Regions from separate parts of the Homo sapiens genome. Here all the other regions are linked to region 1. The links come from fine-mapping of genetic effects on gene expression. A gene starts in region 1. Each other region holds a variant in brackets. All regions are shown on one strand. Distances are from middle to middle.

Region 1 (2,769 bases):
ATACACGCTTTCATTGATTTATTGCACATTACTGGCTTCAGTGCTGACTTGATGACAGGAAGAGTACTTTGGCAGAGGTCTGACAAGTCCCTATCCTTAAGTTCCCTTTTGCTTTGTGCCGTCTGTTCCCAAAGCTATCAAAGTAAAGCAAATGACAGTCTAAAACCTCCCCGTTTTGCCACGAGAGTGTGAAATCAAATTAAAAACACACCTCAAAACTATTACATTGGGCCACGTTTATTTTCAATTGGCGGGGGAGGGGGAAAGAAGACACTTAAAAAGAGATGGATTTCATGTCCTCTGTGTAGCCAGATCTAGTTACAGTGTATTAAGTTATGTCTAAATGAAAAAAAAAAAGATTCTCAAGTGTTTTATCACAAAGTAATGTTATTAAACACATCTAGTGTTCCCACGCTCTCCTCTAGATTCTTTGATTTTTAACCTCCTTTGTTAGGCACCAAACACTGGGAGAAAGATTTCAGGAACAATACCTAGGCAGCACATGATGCCAGGGAATTAATTCTGTCTTCCCCGAGCTGTTTATCCATCATAAACTCAAGCTGCCTTATTTAGCTACACGGTTGCTATATGTAGGACTTCTCTTCCCTGGGTGAAAAGCATGGACCGGCTACAATTGTGTCTTTGAGCGCGCAGCATCGTGCTTTGTGCTGCCGGGGATAACGGATTCTGGGTCTCACACGCATCCGTCACCTAAAACACCCTTAAACTGAACCAGGGTCTCCACAGCTGGAAGGGAAACAACGTGCTGGGACCCAGGCTGCTCTGAGCTACAAGGATCCCAGGAGTGAAGGAAATGTTTCAGGGAGCAGCCCAGGCAGCGGGGGGAGGAAGAAAGCCCTCGCACTCTTACCTCCACATTGAAATACTGCTCCGTTCCGCAGACTGTAGCACATAAAATCCAAAGCAAGGTTTGCAAGAAAAACACCCCCGAATGATGCACGAAATCCAACCGTCTTCCAGTGCTGAATGTGAGTAAGATCATAGTGAACTGTGCTTCAATGGATGGACGAGCTCCCCTTCGTTTTCTCCCTCTCTCCCTCTCCCTCCCTCCCTCGTTTCCTTTCAAAAAAAAGTCCTCCGGGTGGGTAAGGAGCCTGCAGGTTCACCCACAGCCGGGCAAGGGGAGGAGACAGGGGCCCCGCGCTCGGCAGCCCCCGAGAGGCAGCGGCGAAGACAGGGTCAGCAGTAGTTCCTGTTCACCATCCTCCGGGGTCAGTCACCGGGAACGTGGCGCCTAAGTTCACCGGCGGTTCCGGCTCAAAGAGCCTAGTCGCAGCCGCAGCAGCAGCAGCCGCCGCCGCCGCCGCCGCCTCCAGCCCGTGCGTCCTCCTCCTGCACTGCCTACTCCTCCTCCTCCTCCGCCGCCGCCGCCGCCCCCAGCTCCTGCGGGAAGGGCCTCCGCCGCTCCTCACTCTCTCGCCTCTGCTTCTCCTTCCCTCCTCTCCTCGCTCCCCTCCAGAATGTTCATCCGTAATCTACATAACTCCTCCTTCCCGGGGTCTGCCTGGCTCTCGGGGCCCTTGGCGCGCGCGCGCGCGCGCACACACACACACACACACACACACACAGAGACACACCGCGACACACACACACACACGCGCGCATACACACAGCCCGACACACACGCACGCGCGCTTCTTAAAGGAGACGGCTCATAAAGGATTCCCCACTACGGTAGGGCGCACCGGAGGTATCCAGCCCGCGACAAGGGCCCTGGTTTGAGCACAGCTCTTCGACAGTATCTCCCATCCCGCATCCCCGAGGCAGGCACCCAGGAACTTGGGCGGCTCCATTCTTTCTTCCCGCCCACCCTGCCGCCTCGCATCTAAAAACGAGTGCGCCCCTCTCCAGCCATGAGCTGGGTGGGGCTCAGGCTGCGGACCCTAGTGGGGCCTGGGGAGCGGCCCAACCCTGGTCCTGGAGAGCGGTCGGCATTCCTGAGGAAGCGGCCCTGGAAGAATAGGGGCGCTGGGAATCAGAGGAGCGCCTGGTCACTGAGCGCCCCTGGGTGGCTCGGGTCGGTGGCCGGGGCTGACCAAGTTTGGGAAGACTGAGATAGCAAATCCCGAACGTCCAAAACTTTGTTGGGGTCCCGAGCCTGTGGCCTGGTGTCTTCCTGAATCCCCTCTACCATAGCTACATTCCGCCTTCCAGGCTTGAGGAGTAGGCACAGGGTTTTGGTGGCGGACTAGACAAATACAGAAGCGGGATGAAAACGCTCACTTTCCAAGTGAACGGTGGACACACGCGCACAGTGGGACCCGGGAGAGATGGTCCTGGGTGTTAACAAAACATCCGATGAGAGGGATGGGGGCGCTGGAAAGAAACCGGCTGCGGGAGCCAGGGGAAGGGTTGGGGAAAGAAGGAGAAGAAGCAGCCTGAGGAAAGGCGAGTAAAGCAGCTGGCAAGGGCGGGAGGAAGAGGCTGCTCGCAGACCGAGCGGGGGAGAGGCTGGCGGGAGCTAGGAGAGCTGCAGGCAAGAGGGGGAGGCGGCTGGCAAGAAGCACGGGCGAACGCGGGCAGGGAACTTCAGAGGAGGCTGCCAGAAAGGACTGGAGCTGTAGCAGTGCGAGGCAGTGGACAGGGGGGGCAGCAACCACCAGCCCTTGGCAAGTGATGGTTTGGCTGAAAGAGGAAGGGGGAAGGGAGCGAGGCAAGCATCTGTTTGGGGGCTAATGCCAGTAAATGTGCTTCTCCTTGGCAGCCAGCAGAGGGGAAGAGGAGCCCACGGGAAAGAAAAGCAGGCGA
Region 2 (2,769 bases), 33 kb after region 1:
AGTTTTGTGGGCACATGTGTTTTCATTTCTTTTGGGTATATATCTAGGAGTGGAATTGCTGGATCATATGCTATTTCCATGTTTAACCCTTTGATAAACTGCCACACTATTTTGCAAAGCAGCTCCACCATTTGACATTCCCACCAGCAGTATAGGAGGATGAGGATTCCAACTTTTGCACATCTTTGTCAACAGTTGTTATTTTTCGTTTTCTTATATGTGTAGCCACCCTACTTGGTGTGAAGTGGTGTCTCATTTTGGTTTTCATTTACATTTCCTGATAGCTGTTGACTTTGAGCAACAGTCAGTGTGATTTAGGGTCATTTGTATATCTTCTTTGGAAAATGTCTATTCAGATCTTTGCCCATTTTTAAAATTGTGTATTTTCCTTTTTATATTGAGTAATCTGTTATTCATTCCATTTTGCCTCTTTTCTCATTGACTTATTAATGAATTGAATATGTTTTATTGAATCATTTGTCTCCACTATTGGTTCATGTCTTAGTTAGGTTTTTGTTGCTTATAATGAATACCTGAAACTAGTAATTTATAAAGAAAAGGAATTTATTTCTTCCAGTTACGAGGGCTGCAAAGTCCATGGTTGAGGAACTGCATCTGGTGACGGCATTCTTGCTAGTGTGGACTCTGCAAAGTTTCATGGTTGTGCAGGTTATCACATGGTGGGCATGCTGAACATGCTAGATCAGATCTTTCTTCCTCTTGTTATAAAGCCACCAGTCCTGCTCCCATAATAATCCATTAATCTATTAATTCATGAATTGATTCATCCATTCATGAGGGCAGAGCCCTTATGACCTAGTCATCTCCTAAAGGCCTTACCTCTCAATACTGCCACATTGGAGATAAAATTTCAACCTGAGTTTTGGAGGGAAAAATATTTAAACCGTAGCAGGTCATTAGCCATGCCAATATTTAACTTAGCTTAGCCTACTCTGAAATAATATTACACCAATCATGTGTGTATAAAAACATCACAACAGTGTACTTTCATTTATCTTTCCATTGTCTTTGTTAGTTTGTCATACAATTTTATATACAAGTCACAAATTATACAGTGCATTTTTTAAACAGTCAGTTGTTTATTAAAGGTACTAACATTTTTGTAAAAAAAAAGATTATGTTTACTCATATATTTAACCTACCTTGTGGGTTTTATTTCTTCATGTAGATCCTAATTCCAGTCTGGTATCATTTACAATTTTTCTGAAGTTCTTCCTTGTAGTACCACTTTTCCAGATCTAAGTTCTGTTAGATTTTTTTGGTCTAAAAAGCCTTTGCATAATTTTCTATATCAATGTTATAATATTCTGTATTTTTCAGAAATTTAAGGATATATTTCATTGTTTTCTTGCTGCATTGTTCTGAGAAGAATTCTCTTGTCTTTGTCCTATAAACTGGCAGCTTACAATAGTTTCATCTAATTTCTGGCTTAGGGTGATTTTCTTTTTTTGTTGTTGTTGTTGTTCAGTTTTGTTTTTGCTTGGGGTCCAAGGATCTTATAGCTGTGAATTTGAGTTTTCATCACATTTGAAAAAGTTTTGGACATTATTTATTCAAGTATTTTTACCCTCTTCCCCACCTTCTCTTCCTGGGTCTCTAA[T/C]TATACCTAGGTTAGACCATTAGCTATCTTTTCTCTCTTTGTTGAGGTTCTGTTTATCATTCTTTTTCAGTATTTTTTTCTGTGCTATATTTGGAATTGTTTATATGGTTATGTCATCGGGTTAACTGATCTTTTCTTCTGTAGTATTTAATCTATAGTTAATCCCTTGCTATGTATTTTTTATTTCACATGTTTTTCATCAATAAAAATTCCATTTAGAGCTTTATTTTTTTTCTATTTCTTCTATTTTCCCATTATTATGTTCATCTTTTCCATTAACATATTTATATATAGAGAGAGAACAGTTGTTTTAACATCCTTTATGATCAATTTCTTTTTCCATTTCTATTGACTGATTTTTCTTTTGGTTAACTTTTCTCCCGGTTTTTGGTTATGTTTTCCTGATTGTTTGCATATGTGGTTAGTTTTAGTTGGATACTGCCATTGATGGATGTTGAATTTTGTTTAATTAAAAAAAAATAAAATGTAGGCTTTTTTCTCTGGCTTTCAACTTGATCCTTTCTAAGCATTCCTTAACTTTGTTATGATGTGTCAAGAGCAGCCTTTATTCTGGCACTAATTTAAGCCCAATACTAAAGTTTAAGGCTTCTGAAGACATTAATGCCTGGTCTAAGTCTCTCTACTCTGACTAGTAGAACATGAACTGTTTTATCCTTGTATGAGCACTGAGAATTGTGTATCTACAGCTTTCTAGTAGTTCTTTTCTCAGGTCTGAGGGTTTTTTTTCTCTCCTCAATCGCTCCTGCAAAAAATCTATGTCCACCTTTACCTTTCCACTGTTATTTTCCTAACTTAGGTCTCCATCACTATTCATTTAAATTCCACAGGCACTTCTAGGAGATTGTTCTGATGATAATTCGTCTCATTCTTATATTAGTCACTTCCCCACGGTAGCAGAATTATCTTTTTAAGATGAAAATCTAAAGGTTTGCTGGGCGTGGTGGCTCACGCCTGTAATCCCAGCACTTTGGGAGGCTGAGGCAGGTGGATCACGAGGTCAGGAGTTCAAGACCAGCCTGGCCAAGATGGTGAAACCCCGTCTCTACTAAAAATACAAAAAAAAAAAAAAATTAGCTAGGCGTGGTGGTAGGTGCATGTAATCCCAGCTACTCGGGAGGCTGAGGCAG
Region 3 (2,769 bases), 460 kb after region 1:
TTGTGGCAAATGTTATCTGAATGAAAGTGCCACGTATTGATATCTAAAAGGAAGTAAAAAATGTAAATACAATGATCTTTTATCACAGAAAGTTCAACAACTTTGTATCTAAACCAAGAGACTCTATTGATTATTAAGACCAATAATAAAGTTTATTAAAATTATATGTATCAAAGAAAATGGTATGAACAGTATGACATCATCTTAACGTAACTAGTTACATCTGCAACAAACCTATCTTCAAGCAAGGTCACATTTTGAGGTACTGGAGTTTAGGACTCCAACATATGAATTTTGAGGGGGCATAATACAACCTATAACACTTATCATATTTGCAAATATCATTAAAAATATGCCACTGCTAATATCTAATGTTGACAGTAGTATGAAGAAAGAGTCACTCTTATAGATACTGACAGAATTTTACATTAACAAATTATATTTATGGAAGAATTTTTGGCTGAATGTATCAAAAACTTAAAATGTGCTCAACTTGTGCTTCCACTTCTAGAAATGTATTTTTTTTTACAAACACAAGGGTGAACAGAAATTATTACACAAATATAATCACTGCAGCAATATATTAAAAAAACAGAATTATCTCTTCTTGAATTCATTTACAAGTCATATTTTGTAAGCCATTATAAATAATATTAAAATGTTTTAATGTCTATGTTTTCATTATTAAAAAGAGAAGTGCAGTTGGTCATTCTATGTTCACCTTTTATCCTGCAGCCTTGCTAAATTTATTTAATACTCCTTGAAGATTTTTTTTATATGTCTCAGGACTTTCTACAGAGTGAATAAATGTTAATGAAGAAAGTTTTGTTTTTTGCTTTCCAATAAGTATTTTTTTAACTTTTTTTTTTTACTGCATTTGTCTAAAACTTTCAATAAGATACTGAGTAAAATATGTCAAAGCAAATGCACTTTTTTTTGATCTCCAATCCTAAAGAGAAACATTTCATTTTTCATCATTAAGTATGATGCTAACTGTAGTTTCTGGTGTTTTGTTTTTGATAAGTTTTTTTTTTTTTTGTAGATGTTCTGGAAAAAAACCCACACATTTTTAATTTGCTAAGAGTTTTAAAAATAAATGGGTGTTAAAT[T/G]TGGTTAAATGTTTTTTCTACATTTATTGAGTTCATCATTTTGACTTTTTTATTTCTTTTTAAAACTTTTGTTAATAGAGTGAAAGACATAGATTGATTTTAAAATATTAAACCAATCTCATACTCCTGAAGTAAACCATACTTGATCATGGTGTAATATTGTCATGTCATTAAGTTCAATTTGTTAAGGATTTTTACATCTATGTTCAGAAATGATATTGATTTGGAGTTTTGTATTCTTGTAATGTTATTTCCTGATTTCATATCAGGGTAATGCTTGTCTCATAGAATAATTTATAAAATGTCTGGGTAGAATTGGGAGCATATCTTTCTGAAATACTGAATAGAATTTATCAATGAATTTACCTAGAACTACTTATTTACGTGGAAAGATTTTTACTTACAAACCAAGTTTCCTTCACACATGTAAAGCTATTTTGTTTATCTATTTCCATTGGTGTGAATTTGGAACTTTATGTCTTTCAAGGACTTTGTCCAATTTATCTCTGTTATCACATATATTGGCATACAGTTGTTTATCATATGTCTATTTACTACCTCTAGGAGTCTAGTGATGCACTATCTCTCCTTTTTTATATTTATAATTCATGTCTTCCCTATTGTTTTCTAAAACCCAGATAAATCTGTTTTTAAATTAATCTTCTCCAAGAACAATATTTTAAAATATTTTAAAAATTACCTTCTCATTTTCTATTTCATTGATTTATATTCTTATCTATATTATTTCTCTCATTCTGTTTACTTTTTATATAATCTATTATTCTTTTTCTAGTTTAAGGTGGAAACTTGGGCCATTAATTTCTTTTATCTGTTCCTAATATTTGTGTTCAATGTTACAAACTTTCATCTAAGCACTGGTTTAGCTCTATTTCAAAAGTGTGATATATCAGGCTTTTTTGTGTGTTTTCTTTCAGCTCAAAATATTTCTAATTTTCTTTATGATTTCTTCTTTGAATCAGAAGTTATTTAGAAGTTTGTTTTAAAATTTTGGAACATTTAAAAAAATTACTTATGTTTTTCTATCATTTAAAGATCTTGATATGAAATAATACTGAATTTAGGGTGGGCCTGAAATCCAATGACATGTGCTTTTGTAATAAGAGAGATTATGGCCCTGCTCACACCTTGTTTTGGACATCTGGCCTCCAGAAATGTAAGAAGATACATTTATTTTTTTTAAGCTACCTGCTTTATCGTAATTTGTGATGACATCCCTAGTAAACCAATACAGATTTTTGGTATTAAGAAGTTCAGTGCTGCTGAAACCAATATCTAAATGTGTGTGTGCATATATTTTTCAAATATACAATTTCACCAAATTGTAAATTTCAATATATTTTATTGCATTAAAAGCATACCTAAATAATGCTGACCAAAAAGTGTTACATCAGATATCTACTTCTAGAAATATAAGATAAACATACTTTTCCTTATTTGTTTCGTTAAATGGCAGTGACAACACTTAATAAAAAAAATGGGAAGACTTTGAAGTGTATAGCAAAAACAACAGATGACATAGGGATTTCAGGACCCAAGAAACAAAACAGTTTTGAATTCCCTGATTTGTTCCCCTTTTCTTGTCTTTCTTTTCTTTTCCTTTCTTTTCTTTCTTTTCCTCTCTCTCTCTTTCTTATAAATG

Which allele goes with the higher level. Alleles are on the strand shown, and positions count from the first base shown. SD is a standard deviation of normalised expression in the study named. Not every link is listed here.
For the expression in tibial nerve of the gene that starts at base 1,280 in region 1, T is the high allele of the variant in region 2 and C is the other (small effect, 0.38 SD a copy in GTEx).

What was found. PIP is the estimated chance that this variant, and not a neighbour inherited with it, causes the effect.
Region 2: its variant is the best candidate, but not a certain one, in a credible set for the expression of MMP16 in tibial nerve (GTEx, PIP 0.75).
Region 3: its variant is the best candidate, but not a certain one, in a credible set for the expression of MMP16 in ileum (GTEx, PIP 0.54).

The regions. Positions count from the first base shown.
Region 1 is chr8:88,326,204-88,328,972 of GRCh38, forward strand. It overlaps MMP16 (matrix metallopeptidase 16), which reads right to left and starts at 1,280. Exons shown (of 10, transcript NM_005941.5): 1 at 872-1,280. The coding sequence starts at 1,003. It overlaps LOC105375630 (a long non-coding RNA gene), which reads left to right and starts at 1,641. Exons shown (of 8, transcript XR_001745653.3): 1 at 1,641-1,695; 2 at 2,726-2,769.
Region 2 is chr8:88,359,186-88,361,954 of GRCh38, forward strand. The region is part of intron 2 of LOC105375630 (a long non-coding RNA gene); the gene reads left to right. Among named protein-coding and RNA genes, the nearest start is that of MMP16, 33 kb to the left of the region's middle. The variant T/C (reference allele first, on the strand shown) is at 1,622.
Region 3 is chr8:88,789,166-88,791,934 of GRCh38, forward strand. The region is part of intron 3 of LOC105375630 (a long non-coding RNA gene); the gene reads left to right. Among named protein-coding and RNA genes, the nearest start is that of MMP16, 460 kb to the left of the region's middle. The variant T/G (reference allele first, on the strand shown) is at 1,110.